Linked DNA regions of Homo sapiens: region 1 is linked to region 2. The links come from fine-mapping of genetic effects on gene expression. Tissue or cell type: whole blood. Region 2 holds a variant in brackets; the other region holds the start of a gene. All regions are shown on one strand. Distances are from middle to middle.

Region 1 (8,166 bases), 56 kb after region 2:
TGGGGACAGGGCTGTGGCACTCACGGCGCTGGCTCTGCTCTGGCCCAGGCGGCGCTGGCGCTCCTGCACTCGTTGCAGCTGCTGCTGGTACCAGTCGCGGCCCCGCGCCATCATCTCCAAACCCTGCAGCAGCACCTCCTTCTCCTGCTCCAGCTCCTTCATCTGCTTCAGCTGCAATACGTGCATTTACATGGAATGCCTGGCCCCAGTGAGCACGCACACGTCCACACATGCATGAGCTCACCTGTGGGTGGGCACCAGAGCCACAGACACAAATGCAGCAGCACGTGTACACGTTTGCAAACACCCACGGACGCACGCTTCTGCTGACACCTGCATGTGTGAGCCCCATAGGCCCATTTGGAGCAGGAGCCCCGTTCCTCCTGCTGAGGGGTCTTGGCCTTTCTTAGCCCCTCCACTCAGGCTTCCCTGGGGGAGGGGTGACGGACCCTTCAGCTGAGCCCACCCTCCCGAAGTCTGCCTGTGGTGAGCACACAGCTGGGAAGCCAGACTGGCTTGCAGCAGCAACCTCGTGAGGCGGGCTGGGCAGCCACCATAGCTGCCCTAAACGACCTCTTGACCTCCCTCTGCCTGACCCTGGGCCATCCCTCCAGGGGAGTCAAGCCCAGGTAGGGAGAGAGATGTCCAGAGCTGACTGTACTTCCGCCATGGACTCCCCCAGGCTCAAGGCCCCCCTGCTCCCATCCCGGCCTCCAGCCTCCAGGCAAGATGGAGAGCCCCACAGAGCCCCAGTCCCTGCTCACCAGGCCGCAGTCCACGCCGCTGGCGATGGTGTGCCTCCGACGTTCCCCTCGGGCACGGGGAGCCCGCCGGGCATCCCCTGAGTCCGCCTCCAGGGCCCTGCACGCCACTGCACCTGTTATGGAGAGGCATGGGCCTGGCTCACCTCCAGACCTGCCTGGCCAGGCTCTGCTGAGGTGCAGCGGCCTCCACATCTCAGCCCACCCTCGAGGTCTCGGGCACCAGCCTGGCATGGCCCACGTGTAGCCTCTGTGCCAGGCTGGAGTTTGGTCCCTCTCCCCTTTCCAGCTCCTCACACTGGCTTGGGGAGGGCTGTGCCGCCAAGCCCGCATGTTTGCTCAAACACACACCCTGCCCCCTCATCGGTCCGTGAGCTCTCTGGGGCCAGAGGCCTTATCCAGCTCTCTTCTGCACACCCAGTGCCCAGAACATGGCAGGCACACCCTGGGTCTCCAAGGCAGCTGGGTAAGGGAGGAGTGGGCGGGGGGGTTCTGGTCCTGACTACGCCTCTCCCATCTGCACGGGGTCCTGCAAGGCAGCAGGAGATGTGGGTGTGAATGACGGAAACCTAACTTTTCCCAGGATGGTGACTCTGATAGAAAGTTAGTCCCGCATGGCCGGGCACAGTGGCTCACGCCTGTAATCCCAGCACTTTTGGGGACCAAGGCGGGTGGATCGCTTGAGCTCAGGAGTTTGAGACCAGCCTGGGCAACATGGCAAAACCCCATTTCTTCCTTTTTTTCTTGAGACGTTGTTTTGTTCCTGTTGCCCAGGCTGGAGTGCAATGGTATGATCTTGGCTCACTGCAACCTCCGCCTCCCAGGTTCAAGTGATTCTCCGGTCTCAGCCTCCCGAGTAGCTGGGATTACAGACACCCACTACCATGCCCAGCTACTTTTTGTATTTTTTAGTAGAGATGAGGTTTCACCATGTTGACCAGGCTGGTCCTGAACTCCTGACCTCAGGTGATCCACCCACCTCAGCCTCCCAAAGTGCTGGAATTACAGGCGTGAGCCACTGTGCCCGGCCGGCAATACCCCATTTCTATTAGAAACACAAAAATTAGCCTGGTGCAGTGGCATGCACCTGTGGTCCCGGCTACTCAGGAGCCTGAGGCAGGAGGATTGCTTGAGCCTGGGAGGCAGAGGTTCCACTGAGCCCAGATTGCGCCACTGCACTCCAGGCTGGGCAACACAGCAAAACTTTGTCTCAAAAAAAAAAAAGATCCCTTGCCGGGCACGGTGGCTCACACCTGTAATCCCAGCACTTTGGGAAGCTGGGGCGGGGGGGGATCAGTTGAGGTCAGGAGTTCAAGACCAGCCTAGCCAACATGGTGAAACCCTGTCTCTACTAAAAATACAAAAATTAGCAGGGCGTGGTGGCATGCACCTGTAATCCCAGCTACTCGGGAGGCTGAAGCAGGAGGATCGCTTGAACCCAGGAGGCGGAGGTTGCAGTGAGCTGAGATTCGCGCCACTGCACTCCAGCCTGGGCGACAGAGCAAGACTCCATCTCAAAAAAAAAAAAAAAAAAAAAAAAAAAAGTCCCGCGTGTGTGATACGCCAGGCGGTGCACCCAACTGACAAGTCAGGCACGTCCTGGTGCTCACAGACCCCTGCTCTGAAGTTTGTTTGAGGGCTCCCCCTGGGGGCAGCCAAGAGTATCGCGTTGGTGCCACTCCGGCCCAGCTTCCTGGTGAGGGAGTAGGTGCACCTCCCCAGGCTACAGAAGTGGGTACAGGTGTGGAGGAAGGCATCCTCCTTCGGCCTCCAGCTGTAGCCCCAGCACCAGGCACATCCTTAGAGGCCATGCCCCTGGCACCTGGCCACAGGAGTCAGGGAGTGATGCAAGAATTGGGCCCAGGTAGGCACGGCAGAGAGCCTGGCTCCAGGCAGGCCCGAATTCGCACTCCAGCCTGCGGTGCTGAGCGGCTGGCAGCTCTGGGGCAAGACAGTGGAAGAGCACACAGCCCTTCAGGAGGTGGGAGCAGAGAGGGTACAGACAGAGGGAGGCCATAGAGGAAGTCCCAGGACACCTGGGCCCGGTCTGTACAGTTGAGTCCATAGAGCAGCTCCTGGGTCCCCAGATAGCAGCGTGCTGGGTGATGAGCTAGATGGCCTCTAGGTGGGGGTGGTGGCTCTGCCCCTCCAGGGCCCTGAGCCAGCAGGCCACACCTCCAGGGCCACAGCCAGCCTGGAGCAAACACGCAGTCCCAGGTGGGAACAAGGAAAGAGGCCCTGAACATCTGGGCTGGGGGCTTGGAAGGCTGTGTGTGTTGGCAGGCTTTCTGGGAGTTGGGGTGACCTCAGAGCTCCAGATTTGACACCCCAAAAGCCAGCTGTGTCAATCAAATATGTCACGCCATTTGTCTGGCCCTCCGTTTGCCTGTGAGAGGGTGACAGCTACAGCCCTAGCCATGTGGCCTTCAGGGAGATGTGGTACGTGAGCCAGTGCCGCATGGGGCATCAGAGCAGAGCAGGGGTGGACCACAGGCTTAGGCCTCCAAACCCCAGGCCCGGCCACAGCGTGCAATCCCATGGCTGATTTCAAACTGCATGGCCACATGGATGACGCTGACCCTGCATTTGGAGCCAGATACCCTCTGAAGGTTCCCTCACCATAGAACTAGGGGTCCCCCAGCCTGGTGTGGCTGCTGGATCAGATCACCAGGGAGGCCAGGGCCGCCGTGGCTCCAAACACCAGCTGTAGGGCTGGAGAATATGGCTGAGGTGGGGGAGCAGTACAGGGAGGGTGGCAGAGCAGCAGGCAGCACAGGGACCGGCAGGAGCCACCGGTGGGCAGGCCTCCCCTGGCAGAACGGGTGCACAGGCCGAATGGGCTGTGGGGCCTGGGGCCCCTCTGGGAGCTTGGCCCCCCAACCCCAGCCATAATACAGGTCCTGTTCCCAAGGCAGGCACTGGGTTGGGGGAGACAGGGGACCATTCAGCAATCTCCCATCACTGCCAACTGGACCGGAAGGCAGGAGAGGAGTGTGCCAGCCATCCCCAGGGACTACGGCCTATGTCCCTCCATGGCATCTGCCATAGTACAGCCCCACTGGGGTGCAGGAGATCCACCCACGCCCCTGCCCATCTTGGCAACAGGGCCAGGTCCTCTTGGGCCACCAGCAGCAGCCCCCGCCTGCCTAGGCCTCAGTGGGGTCAGTGGGCCCAGCCCCCCTGGCTAAGCTGTCACACTGAGAAGGGGGACCCTTTCTTTGAGAAGGAAGCACTTCTGCCTGAGCAGCCACAGACAGGAGGCTGAGGGCCCAGGTGTCCCCAGGTGCGGAAAGGGTATTGGAGATGGAGAGCCCAAGCTCAGGCTTGGTACAGGTTGGGCTCCCGGTGGGTTTTCTGAGTCACCTGCCACCCCCCGGCCCTGGTGGCCTTATGCTGTGGCAGGAGAGGGTCTGGCTTGCCTCCCTAAGCAAGCCCCTGGGCTCACCGCGACAAGCATGAAGCCCTTTCCCTCCAGACCCGCCGAGGCGCCCTCCAGGATCCGGAGTCCACGAAGAGCCGCTCCCCGGTCCCGTCCCTTGTGGGAAATGCACGGGCAGCAGCTGTGGGACTGCGGTTTCTGGCCCGGGCCCGGGAGAGCTACGAGGGTGCCCGGGGGCCGTCCGGAACTCACCTGCGTCCGCGCTGGAGCTCGGTTCCAGCGCCGCGCTCTGGGACCGCTCGGGCTCCGCGGGGCAGGGCGCCGCCTCAGCCGGGGCGCACAGCTGCTCCGGGCTGCGGGCGGCGGCGCTGGGACCGGCCAGAGGGGCGCGCACGCCCAGGGGCAGGGGCTTCCTCTCCAGGACCGTCCGCGGCTCGTCGGCCGGAGCGAACACCAGGCGCTGCGGCGGCGGCGGCGGCTGATCCCCGGGCCGGGCCGGGGCGCGCGTGGGGTCCCGGGGGCCGCCGTCGGCGCTCAGCAGGGAGGTGCGCAGGCCGGCCACGAAGCGCTCGAAGGTCAGGTAGCCGCTGGCCGGGGCCACCTGGCGCAAGCCCTCCAGCACCCCGCGGGGCAGCTCCCGCGCGTCGGTGCCCTGCCAGCGGGACTCGATCTCGCGCAGGTGCACGCAGCCGCGCCGCCGGTCGTCCAGGATGTCGAACAGGGTGCGCAGGCTCTGCAGGAAGGCGCGCGGCAGCCCCTCCGTGCTGGGCGCGGGTGCGGGGGGAGGCACGCGGCCCCGCTCGGCCATGGCGGCCCCGGCCATGGGCGCCCGGGATCGGTCCCCTCGTCCACCCGCGTGCGTCCCAGCGCGGCCCCACGGAGGGGCCGGCCCGGCGAGCTCAGCCCACGGCGACAATAGCGACTACTTTTGAATGGGGCCCTCCTCGCGGCGTCAGCCCTCATTAACATGCGCCGCGGCCATTGGCCGAGCCCGTCCCATCTGCTCTCTGATAGGCTGAGAGGAGGTTTGATTTTTTTTTTTTTTTTCTTGCCGAGTGGCCCTGGGAGGCGCGCGGAGGCCCTGGGCAGGCGGAACCGGATCCCCCAGCTCCTGCTCCACTCTGGCCTCGCAGACCTTCCTTTCTGCCCCGCCCCAGCCCCACCAAACCTCCTGCCGCGGCCAGGCGCTTTCTCGGATCCAGCTGTGGCTGGCTGCCCCGGCCACCTCTCCAAGGGGCGGGGCCTGGCACCCTACAAAAAAACCTGTCTCCAGGTAGCCTCGTGGGGTAAGAATGGGGGGGGGCACCCCCTCCAAAGATCCCACTTTTCCCCTCTAGTTCCCTGGCCGCAAGCACAGGTGACCCTGCGGCCCCCTTCTCTTCCACCAGGAGGGCCCCAAGAGGATCGTAGGCTCCAGCCAGCTGGGCGCTTCCCACTCACAGAGGCCTTTCTGTCCCCACTGCTGCTGGCTCCTCCTCTGGTCCCTCGGGACAGTCTGGCCTGGCCTGCCTGCTGCAGAACAAAGCCACTTTCTCCTGTGTCCCCAGATCCCCATCTAGTGACCAGCTCCCTCTGCCTCTTGCTCTCCTCTCCTCCTTCCCCTGGCTGGACACCTCCTCCAGCTGCTCTCCTGGCTCCCGCAGCCCTGTCCCCCTGCCTCTGCTGTGTTTCCAGCTGGGATCTGGTCACTCTGTCTTCATTTGGTCTGTCCACATGGGAGGTGAGACCAGGCCTTAGCCTGGGTTCTAGCCCTGGGAGCCCATCTCAGGGCTGGCCAGTAGTACCCTCTAGGTTCCAGGGAGGTGTTCAGGGTGCAAACACCCTCCCCAGACAGGCCCCCAATCCGAGACTTGCCTTGGCCCTCTGCGGGTCTCCCACCCTCCCTCCTGGGCAGGCCTCAGCTGGCATACCTACCTGGGTCTCTGTCCTCAGGCCTGAGCCACTGGTGCCTGTGTCTCAAGCTGTAGAGGCATCTTCCCAGGCCAGGGAGTATCCTGGGTCCACTTCTCTTCTGGGTCACTCACTCTAAGTGGGACTCCTTCATCGTAGGGAATGCTGGAAGGACATAAGAAGCTCTGAGCCTGGAGCAGCCCATCAGAGCTTGGTCCTGTAAGCCAGCTTCCCCTTTAATGGCTGGTCTGCTCAAAAACCCAGCACGAGGCCGAGGCGGGAGGATCACTTGAGCTGGGGAGTTCAAGACCAGCCTGGGCAACATAAGGCAACCCTATTTCTACAAAAAGTTTAAAAAATTAGCCAGGCGTGGTGGTGCATGCCTGTGGTCCCAGGTATTTGGGAGGCTGAGGTGGGAGGATCCCTTGAACCCAAGAGGTTGAGGCTGCAGTGAGCTGTGATTGAGCCACTGCTCTCCATCCTGGGTGACAGAGCGAGATCTTGTCTCAAAAACAAAACAAAACAAAACAAACCAGCACAACACGCAAGCCCCCGCCCCCCCATCCCCACACCTACCCTGCTTCCAGCACACCCCTCACCGCCAGTGCCAGGCCTGGGGTCCCTGCACTCCCTCACTTCCAGGCCCCTGTGCCTGGTGGCTCTTCTACCAGGAAGGCCCTTCCCCTCTGCTCCAGGCTGACCGCACTACATCCTTCAGAACTCTGCTCTGGCCCCAGTCCCCTTCCCCCTGAAGCCTAGTTAGATAAAACACAGGGGACAGCTTTCTCCTGGCCCAGGGGGCCCTGGCTATTTGCAAGCAGGACAGGGCTCCTTCTAGGCCTGGCATTGGCCTGGCCCACAGTGGGTGCTCTGTGAATGGCACTGGGGAGCCGTATCCAGTGAAATCATATGGGAAACACCATCCTTGAGTGGGCACCAAGCCAGGCTGAGGCCTAAGGGATGGGGAAGGGCTGGGAACAGCTCAGTGGTATGGCAGGGGAGGCCAGTGTGGATGTGGAGTCGGTGGCCAGCAGTGAGCAAGGCTGCTGCAGCTCAGGACAGCGTGGCCAGCAGTGTCCAGGCCAGGCCAGCCATGGCCCCGCATGGAACTGAACCCACCGTGCAGATGAAACAAGGGCTTTTCATACCATCCAGAGCCTTGGGGGAGGCGGCCCCAGCTGGCCCTTGGTCTGTGGGCTTCTCTGTGGCCCCTGGCTGGGTATTGGAGGAAGGTATGAAAAAGACTGGAGGCCGGGCACGGTGGCTCACGCCTGTAATCCCAGCACTTTGGGAGGCCAAGGCGGGCGGATCACCTGAGGTCAGGAGTTCGAGACCAGCCTGACCAACATGGAGAAATCCCGTCTCTACTAAAAATACGAAATTAGCCGGGCATGGTGGCCCATGCCTGTAATCCCAGCTACTCGGGAGGCTGAGGCAGGAGAATAGCTTGAACCCCGGAGGTGGAGGTTGCGGTGAGCCAAGATCGCGCCATTGCACTCTAGCCTGGTCAAGAAGAGCAAAACTCCATCTCAAAAAAAAAAAAAAAAAAAGGCTGGGCACGGTGGCTCATGCCTGTAATCCCAGCACTTTGGGAGGCCAAGGCGGGAGGATCACGAGGTCTGGAGATCGAGACCATCCTGGCTAACATGGTGAAACCCCGTCTCTACTAAAAACACACACACACACAAAAAATGAGCCGGGCGTGGTGGCGGGCGTCTGTAGTCCCATCTATTCGGGAGGCTGAGGCAGGAGAATGGCGTGAATCCAGGAGGCGGAGCTTGCAGTGAGCCGAGATGGCACCACTGCACTCCAGCCTGGGCGACAGAGCGAGACTCCGTCTCAAAAAAAAAAAAAAAGACTGGAGGCTGTGCCTGGCTTTGGGCGTGGAGCTAAGATGTGGTCCTGTGTCCTTCCTGTCCTGAGCTCTGACCACTTCCTCCTTCACTCCACTTTCCGGCTGGCCTGATAGTTTCCCAATCCTTCAGGTTTTAGTGCTGTGTCACCCCTGGGGGTCCCATGCTGTCCCTGTACTTTTGGAGGCCCCATCTTAGCTGTAATTGTGTTCTCACTGTGTAAGCCTGGACCACTCTGGGCAGAGGTGGCAGGAAGACCGGCCCCTCTGTCCCCTGATGTATC
Region 2 (8,166 bases):
TGATCATGTAGCCATCTCCAAACCTGGTGGGACAGGCCGGTGGCCCGGAGCCCTGCGCCGCCCAGCCAGAGCCCCAGCCCCCCAGCCTCCCAGCCCTACAGCCCCCACAGGCACCCCAGGAAGCCCCATAGCCTCCCACAGCCCCCCAACCCCACAGCCCCCACAGCCCTCCAGGCTCCTCCCCTGGCCCCACTGCCCCAGTCCCCCCAGCCCCAGTGCCCCCAGCCCCCCTGGCCCCACAGCCCTCACAGCCCTGCAGCCACCCCCACTCCTGGCCCCGCTGCCTGGCCGCCCCCCCCGGGCCCGCCCCAGCCCACCCCTGGCCCTGCCCCGGCTCACCGGTTCTTCAGGTGCTGGATGCTGCCCAGGCACCGCAGGCGACCGTTCACCATGATGGCCAGCCGCGTGCACAGCGCCTCGCACTCCTCCATGCTGTGGGACATGCACAGGCTGGCACCGGAAGGGGTGCTGTGGGGTGGGGGCACAAAGAGGGGGTGGGGGCGCCCTCACCTGTGTGATGTCAGCACCACTGAACGCCCTGTCTTGATGAGGTCAAGGATGAGGTTCCAGAGGAAGCGCCGGGCCTTGGGGTCCATGCCTGTGGTGGGCTCGTCCTGGGGATGGGTGGCAGGCTCAGCTGCTGCCAGGCCCACACACCCCAGCCTGAACGCTGCCCCTGCCCGTGCTCACCAGGAAGTCAAAGGCCAGGCAGCCACCCCCCACCCACCCAGGACTTACCAGGAAGATGAAGGCTGGGTACCCAATGAGGGCGATGGCCGTGGAGAGCTTCCGCTTGTTGCCGCCGCTGTAGGTGCCAGCCGGCTTGTCTGCGTACTTGGTCAGCTCCAGCTTCTCCAGAGCCCACTTCACCACCTGGCCAGGGAACGCAGGTGTCAGTGGAGGCAGGGCCACCCAGCGTGCTGACTCCCTGCCCCGCCCCACAGATCCTCACCCGGGCCTCGTCCTTCCAGGAGATCCCACGCAGCCGCGTGTACAGCTGCAGGTGCTCCCGGGCCGTGAGCTCGTCGAACAGCGCGTCACACTGCGGGCAGTAGCCGAGGCTCTGCTGCACCTGGAGCAGCTCCTTCAGCACGCTGGGGACACGGCAGCTGTCAGCGCGTGAGGACGCGGCGGCCCCGCCCACCCAGGGCTCCCGCCCCACCTGTGTCCATTGACGAAGGCCTCGCCCCCCGTCGTGCTCTCGTCGCCGGTCAGCATCTTGAAGGTGCTGGTCTTGCCCGCACCGTTGACGCCCAGGAGCCCGAAGCACTCGCCAGGACGCACACCCAGGCACAGGCGGTCAACGGCCAGGATACGGCCAATCTTCCGGGACTTGTAGACCTGGCCAGGAGCCTGCCCACTCAGCGGGGCATCCTGCCCCCACCCTGCCCCTCTGGCCCCACCCCACCCAGACCCTGCCCCACCTCCAGAGCCCAGGGGGCCACGTGCCCCACAGCCCCACCCCATGCAGGCCCCACCCCCAGAGCTCAGGGCCCTGCCCACCCAGGCTCCACCTCCACTGCTGGGGCCCCACCCCCCTGGCCCTGGCCTACCCCACCCAGGCCCCACCCTACATGCCCAGAGCCCACCTTGGTCAGGTTCTCAATCTTGACCATGTCATTGTCGGCGTCTCCCCGGAGCACTCGCTGCCGCTCACTGGCCACGTCCACATCATCCTCCACAGGCTTGGTAGACACAGGCATGCGCCTTGGGGGACAGGGTGGACAGTGTCCAGCAGCTCGCCACCCCCACTGCCCCTCCCTGCCACCAGCCTCGCATCCTCTGGCTGTGGCATGTAAGAAGGGTGGGCAGGCCCCTCTGCTGTCCCCTGCCTCACCCCCTCCTGCCCCATCCCTGCCCCCACCCCCGCCCCTACCCTGCCCCACCCCCGAACCCATCCCTGCTCCCGCCCCGCCCCCGCCCCACCCCGCCCCCCACTCACTGTGGCCGCCGCAGGAAGTTGTACTGGCACATGATGGTCAGGAGGAAGCCCACGACGCCCTCAACCGCCATGGCCACCAGTCCGCGGGTGACAATGTCCCACTCGAACGGGGACTTCATCTTGTCAAACTGGCCTGCGGGGAGACAGCTCAGGGCCTGTGCTCTGGGCCTTGCGGGGCCCCCACCGCCTTCCCCGCCCCACGGGCCCCCTCACCAATCTTGGCGTAGTACTCGTTGATGTACTCGTTGTAGGCCATCTCCATGAGCCCGTGGCCCAGGTTGTAGTTGGGGAAAATGAGGAAGCAGCTTTTCAGGTAACTGTTGACAACCTTCAGGTCCTGCGGGGTGGCCGGGGTCAGGGGCACAGGGGTGGCCGGGGTGAGGGGCACAGCCTCCGCAGGGTCCGCCACCCCCACCATGTCGTCACCGCCCCACCTTGTCGTGCTCGAAGAGCTGTAGCAGGAAGGTGGCCACGGTGGCGGTGATGCCGATGAAGAGATTGATGACAATGAGGAACACGTAGGCGGAGCTGGGGACCTCGAACCAGAAGGAGGCCGGGTACATGATGGGCGTGATGGACCACCTGCGGGCAGGTGGCGGGCAGTGGTCACCAGGCAGCCCCGGTCCCACCTGAGGCCGCTCCCCCCTCCGCTTCCGCTTACCCATAGAGCAGGAAGAGGGAGAGGACGGCAGGGAAGTTGGTGGGCGACGTGTAGGCCGGCAGGTCGAACACAAACAGGATGATGACACAGCAGGTAGCGGGGACCAGGTAGTTGAGCTGCAGGGGTGGGGGCGGCTGGTGAGAGACCCGGGGCAGGGCGGGGATGGGGGATGAGAAGGGCCGGGGCACCCCATGGCCACGCCGGGCGCACCATGTCCCACACGTAGTTCGCCAGCCAGTAGATGATGGGGTTGCAGCCGCTGACAAACTGCAGGTGCTTGGCCTTGGTGGACTTCTCGGCCACGAGGAAGACAACGAAGCTGGCCGGCACGAAGGACATGGCCACGATGATGAAGATGGCGATGACGACATCCGTGCCCTGCAGCCTGGGGCAAGGAAGCCCTCAGTCCTCACGGCCGGGGCTGCAGTGCCCACCTGCCCCACCTCATCCCCCACTGGCCACACTTACAGGTAATCCAGGGAGAGGCTGGCGCTGGTCTTATTCATGGGGTGGTTGGTGACGGTGATGCCTGCACACGGCGGGGCGGGGGCGGCAGCTTCAGGCCCCAGCTCCTCCCCGCCCCGGCCCCAGCTCCTCCCCGCCCCGCCCCGCCCTGCCTATGTCAGCTCACCGTAAGCCGCCGGGTTGCCCTTGCTCTTGGGCAGGTTGGCACGCAGGATGGCGTTGTTGAGGCTGTTGAGGTAGGTGGGCATGCTGTGATAGCCCTTGTTGTTGTAGAAAACCTGCAGAAGGAAGAGGACACAGAAAGGCCCCAGGACCTCAGACCTGGGTCCCTGCAGACCTCGGG[C/T]GGCGCTACACACAGCGGGGCCCAGGCCCGCAGCCTCGCTCACCTGGGCAGCCCTGCGCACCGCGATCTTCCGCACCATGGGTGGGGCCCTGGTGCCAAATGAGGCTGGGATGGACTTCAGGACGTTTCCAAAGGTGATGGCCCCATACCTGGGCAGGCAGGTGGGAGGGGCGGTGAGGCTAGGCAGGCAGTGAGGCTAGAGGGGCAGGAGTTGAGACTAGGTGGCTGGTGGCCGGCCACCCTCACCCACAGCCTCCCCACCCAGCTCACCGGTGCAGTCGGAAGCGGTCGGAGGTGAAGAGCAGGTACTCAGAGACATTGTGGCCGGTGATGTCGGTCAGGATGTCGCCTGTGACCACCCGCATCTGGGGCGGGTGCCCGCCCACACTGCTGGGGCAGGAGAAGCCGGTGCCCTGCGCAGAGCAGGTGCAGCGGACGGGCTCCCGTACCAGGCGCGGCAGGGAGGGTGCCGACGTCCACATTTCTGTGGGCACAGCATGGTGCGGTGAGAAGGACCCCTCACTGCCCCTGCCCCCCCAGCAGGCCCCCTGAACCACTACCTGGCCCAGCGGTGGGCGGCAGGGAGACGTTCCAGGCCTGCAGGTCCTCATCCGGGGACGCTGGCGAGTCAGATGGGGCGGGCGAGGGTGGGGGTGGCACGAAATTGGACAGTGGCAGCCCCTGTGTGAAGGACTCCAGACACATGCTGTCGAAGAACCGAGCCGCCAGCAGGCGCGACTCCCCGCTGCTCAGGTTCAACGTGGGCCCCAGCGAGCCGTTGGCGGGAGACTTGAGCACGCAGGTGGCACCCACCCCCGACGGCAGCCGGAACGTGCTCACGAGCTGCTGGGGGCTGGCGTCGGGCGATAGCCGCAGCCTGCGGGCACCGACAGTGTGAGGTGGGGCTGCCAGTCTCCGCCCCTCGCCAGCCCCGCCCCCTCGCCCGCCTGGCCCACCAAGGCTGTCCCCGCCCCTTCACTCGCCCCACCCACCAAGGCTGCCCCCGCTGGAGGCCTCACCGGTACTCGCGGCGCTCCTCGTTGGCGTAGGGGATGAAATTGCCACGGGGCTGGGTGTAGTTGTGGTACTGGGAAGGTGACAGGACCAGCGGGGGCAGATCACCTGGCAGGGCGAGCAGGGAGGCCTGAGCAGGTTCTGCCCTCTGGCCAGCGGCCCCCAAGCCTCGGTCCCCTTCCCCCAACCCCAAGGGATCCACGCCTGGGGTCTGGGACCCGAGGAGACAGGACTCCCGGATGAACCCCGGTGCGTGCCCAGCCTCAGGTGTGGGGTGAGGCCCAGAGTCAGGAAGCTCAGGAGTGGGCATCATCAGGGCTCCCAGCGGGCGGTGGGGGGAGGCAAGCCCAGCACCCCTGTCCAGCCGGTGGCCTACCAATCTCCGGGACGGACAGGGCCACGGTCATGGCCACGCAGACGAAGAAGGCTGGCAGCAAGATCTGGGAGAAGAGTGCCTTGGAGTTGCGGCGGGCGCAGTGGAAGCGTTTGACCAGCAGCCCGTGGAACTGGCGCACCTTCAGCCACCCGCCGTCCAGCTTGCGGCTGCCCTGGCCGACCCTCGACAGGGCCTCTGCCTCCACCTCTGTGCAGAGAGGTAGAGGCTGAGCAGGTGGTTGCACGCTACCCTCTCCCTACTGGCTGCCCTCATGCCGCTCCCCCGCAACCCTGCTCCCCCTCCCTTGCTGTCCCAGCCTCACCCTGCCACCCCCACCTTGCAGGCTGACATTGTCTGGGTCCTGTGGGTTATCAAAGAGGGGGCGGTAGTCGCCATAGACGTCGGTGTAGCCAGCTCCCTCGTCGCCACGGGCAGAGCCCACAGATGACGCCGACTGCAGCGATGCCTGCGACTGGGTCAGCTCCGAGCACCGGGCCAGATTGCCAGCGTGACCCTCCCCAGACGCCGGGCCCTCCGCCCCAGGGAGCACATCCTTCCTGGACTCCTTCACATCTGCCGCAGTGGAAGGGCCGAGGGGACACTCAGGGCTACTGGCCCCTAGGCCTGCCCAGGACCCCCATCCCCGGTCTTGACCCCAGTTCCCAGGCTCATACACCTGTCCGGGACCTCTGGCCACCAGGACCACCCACCTAGGACCGCAGGCTAACCCCGGGGCGTCCCCTGGCTTCCACCCAGGACCAGGGTGGCGCCCCCAGACACCAGGCAGGAGTGACAGCGCAGGCCCGAGCTGGGGCCTTGTGGGTGGGGTGGGCTGAGCAAGTGGTCCAGGCCCCTCACCGGCCTCACTGTTCTCCAGCGACTGATCCTCCTCCGACACCTTGAGGAACACTTCCTCCAGGGTCGTGTCCATCAGCCCGAAGCTGCTGAGGTGCAGTGCATCCAGGCTGCGCTCCAGGTGCTGCAGGGGCGGTGGAGGGGGAGGCTGCGGCAGGGACGCCCAGGCAGGAGTGCGCCCACCTCCACCACCTGCAACTGCCCCCCGACCCGTGCGCCCTCACACCTGGAAGAGGCGCTCGAAAGCCCCCTTCTTGGCGGCCTCGCTGGGCAGGATGTAGGAGAGCTCCGTGCTTGTGTCTGAGACCAGCAGGCAGGAGGCCACATGCTTGCGGATGAACTGGGACACCTGGAGCTCGGAGCAGCTGCTCAGCGGGGCCCGACCTGGGGGGCTGGATGCCAGCCCTGGCTCTGTGGGGGACGTGGGAGCAGGAAGGAATTCACTCAGGGGCTGGGAGGAGGGACCCCCAATGGGAACCCAACTGGGTCAAGATATGGGCATTGGAGAGGAAGAACCAGGCCCCAGCAGGTATCCTGGGCCCAGGGGGTGACGCTGAGGACCCAGCCTCTCCAAGATACGGGCGTTGCAGAGGGCGGGCCAGGCCCCAGCAGGCATCCTGGGCCCAGCGGGTGACGGTGAGGGCCCAGCCTCTCCATTGTGGATTCTCAGGTGGGGGTCCCGGGGAGAAGGTGGCCCGAAGCCAGCTCAGGCAGCTTCAACACAGACCTTGGGGGCCCCCCGGCTCGGCGGGCCGCTTGACCAGCGTGAGGCGGTACCCGTCGCCATAGGTGCCCTTGAGGAAGAGCGGGGAGCCGCAGCACTTGAGCTTCCCATGGGAGATGATGGCAATGCGGTCCCCAAGCAGGTCAGCCTCATCCATGTGGTGGGTGGACAGAAGGATGGTGCGGCCTAGGACAAGGCCAGACCCAGGGTCAGGGGGCAGGGGAGGCGCCGCCCGCACCCCTGCCCACACGGCACCCCACTCACCTGGCTTGTACTTCAGGATGAGGTCCCAGATGGCGCGGCGCGCGTAGGGGTCCACGCCCGCCGTGGGCTCGTCCAGGATGATGGCGCGAGAGCCGCCCACGAAGGCGATGGCCACGGACAGCTTGCGCTTCATGCCACCCGACAATGTCTGCACCAGTGAGTGCCGTTTGTTGGAGAGCTCCAGGTCCTCGATCATCCTGGGACAGGGAGGTGGGGCATGGGGCTGCTGCTATGCAGAGCCCCAGGGCCTCCGCCCACCTGCCCCGCCCCCCGCCCAGCCCACCCACTTGTCCATCTCTCTGCGGATCTCCTCCTGAGCCATGCTCTTGAGCCGTGAGTAGAACCAGAGGTGTTCCTCCACCGTGAGCCGGTCAAAGAGCACATTGTGCTGCGGGCACATGCCCAGGTTCTTGCGGATCTCATCCATCTCCGTGCGGATGTCGTGCCCGTAGATGGTGGCGGAACCCGACGTTGGAGGGAACAGGCCGGTCAGGATGGACCTGGGTAGGTGGGCGGGGTCATGACCCCACGCCCTCTGCAGGGGCCCCACCCTGCCCTGACTAGGACTCCTGCTCTGGTCAGCAGATGCCCACCGCCCTGCCCCTCCGACACTCACATGGTGGTGGTCTTGCCCGCCCCGTTGTGGCCCAAGAAGGAGACCACCTGGTTCTCGTAGAGGTTCAGGCTCAGCTTGTTCAGGGCCAGCTTCTTGTCGTCCTTGTAGACCTTGGTGAGTTTGTCCACGCAGACAACCAGAGGCAGGTGGGTGGGCTCCTCCTCCATGCCACGGGTCTCCTCTGCACCAGGGCTGTGGATCAGCAGGGTGGGGGCGGCGCCAAGGCCACCCAGGACTCTGAACCCAGCGCCCACCCCAGCCACCATTCTGATGCCAGCCTCACCAAAGCGCCGGCTCTCCATGGCACAGGCCTGGTCCTCCTCCATGACACTGAGGCGGGGGGTGCGTGCCCACGGCCAGCTCCACTCCCAGGCTTCTGTCCGCCCACTGCCCAGCCAGTAGGACTTCTGCAGTGGGAAGTACCAGGGCCGGGGCAGCCCGTACATGCCTGGGGGTCGGGGAGGGGAGGGGAGGCTGACCTAGGGCCTGGGGTGACCATCCACCACGTGGGCCACGTGCCCACCCAGGGAGCCACCCGTGCTGCATCCAGGAGTGGACACAGACTGCTGGTCCCCAACCCTGGCTGGGGACCCCTGCCTCTCCCCTGCCCTCCAAGGGCTGGCCAGTACCTGGGTGCACAGCCTCAATGTACCACGTGAGGATGCCATAGACCACGGCGTCCACCATCAGCATGGTGACAGCCAGGAGCAAGTTGAAGTCGTCCCCCTCCACCGGGGACTGGCTGAAGGTGTGCCACTGGATGCCCACGCCGGCCACCTCATACAGCGCGAAGTACTTAGAGCCCAGACCAAAGGCCGTCGTGGACATGAGGGACTGAGAAGGCAGTGGTGTCAGCACGTGGGGTGGCCCGGCACCCCAGCCGCCCGCCTGCCCGCGACCCTCACC

Evidence for each region. PIP is the estimated chance that this variant, and not a neighbour inherited with it, causes the effect.
Region 1: it holds the start of SAPCD2, and the variant in region 2 is fine-mapped to the expression of SAPCD2 in whole blood (TOPMed, PIP above 0.99).

Annotation. Positions count from the first base shown.
Region 1 is chr9:137,065,498-137,073,663 of GRCh38, forward strand. SAPCD2 (suppressor APC domain containing 2) reads right to left here and starts at 5,060. Exons shown (of 6, transcript NM_178448.4): 1 at 4,393-5,060; 2 at 765-877; 3 at 25-171. The coding sequence starts at 4,963. RefSeq lists enhancers at 2,279-3,259, 2,612-2,661, 5,222-6,201 and silencers at 2,962-3,011, 4,388-4,437, 4,488-4,537, 4,708-5,117.
Region 2 is chr9:137,009,031-137,017,196 of GRCh38, forward strand. ABCA2 (ATP binding cassette subfamily A member 2) reads right to left here. Exons shown (of 49, transcript NM_001606.5): 18 at 8,166; 19 at 7,890-8,094; 20 at 7,544-7,708; 21 at 7,261-7,441; 22 at 6,932-7,144; 23 at 6,645-6,841; 24 at 6,384-6,566; 25 at 5,883-6,067; 26 at 5,660-5,780; 27 at 5,138-5,374; 28 at 4,802-5,008; 29 at 4,431-4,533; 30 at 3,972-4,288; 31 at 3,682-3,895; 15 more. Among named protein-coding and RNA genes, the nearest start is that of LINC02908, 14 kb to the right of the region's middle. RefSeq lists an enhancer at 1,406-2,605. The variant C/T (reference allele first, on the strand shown) is at 3,412.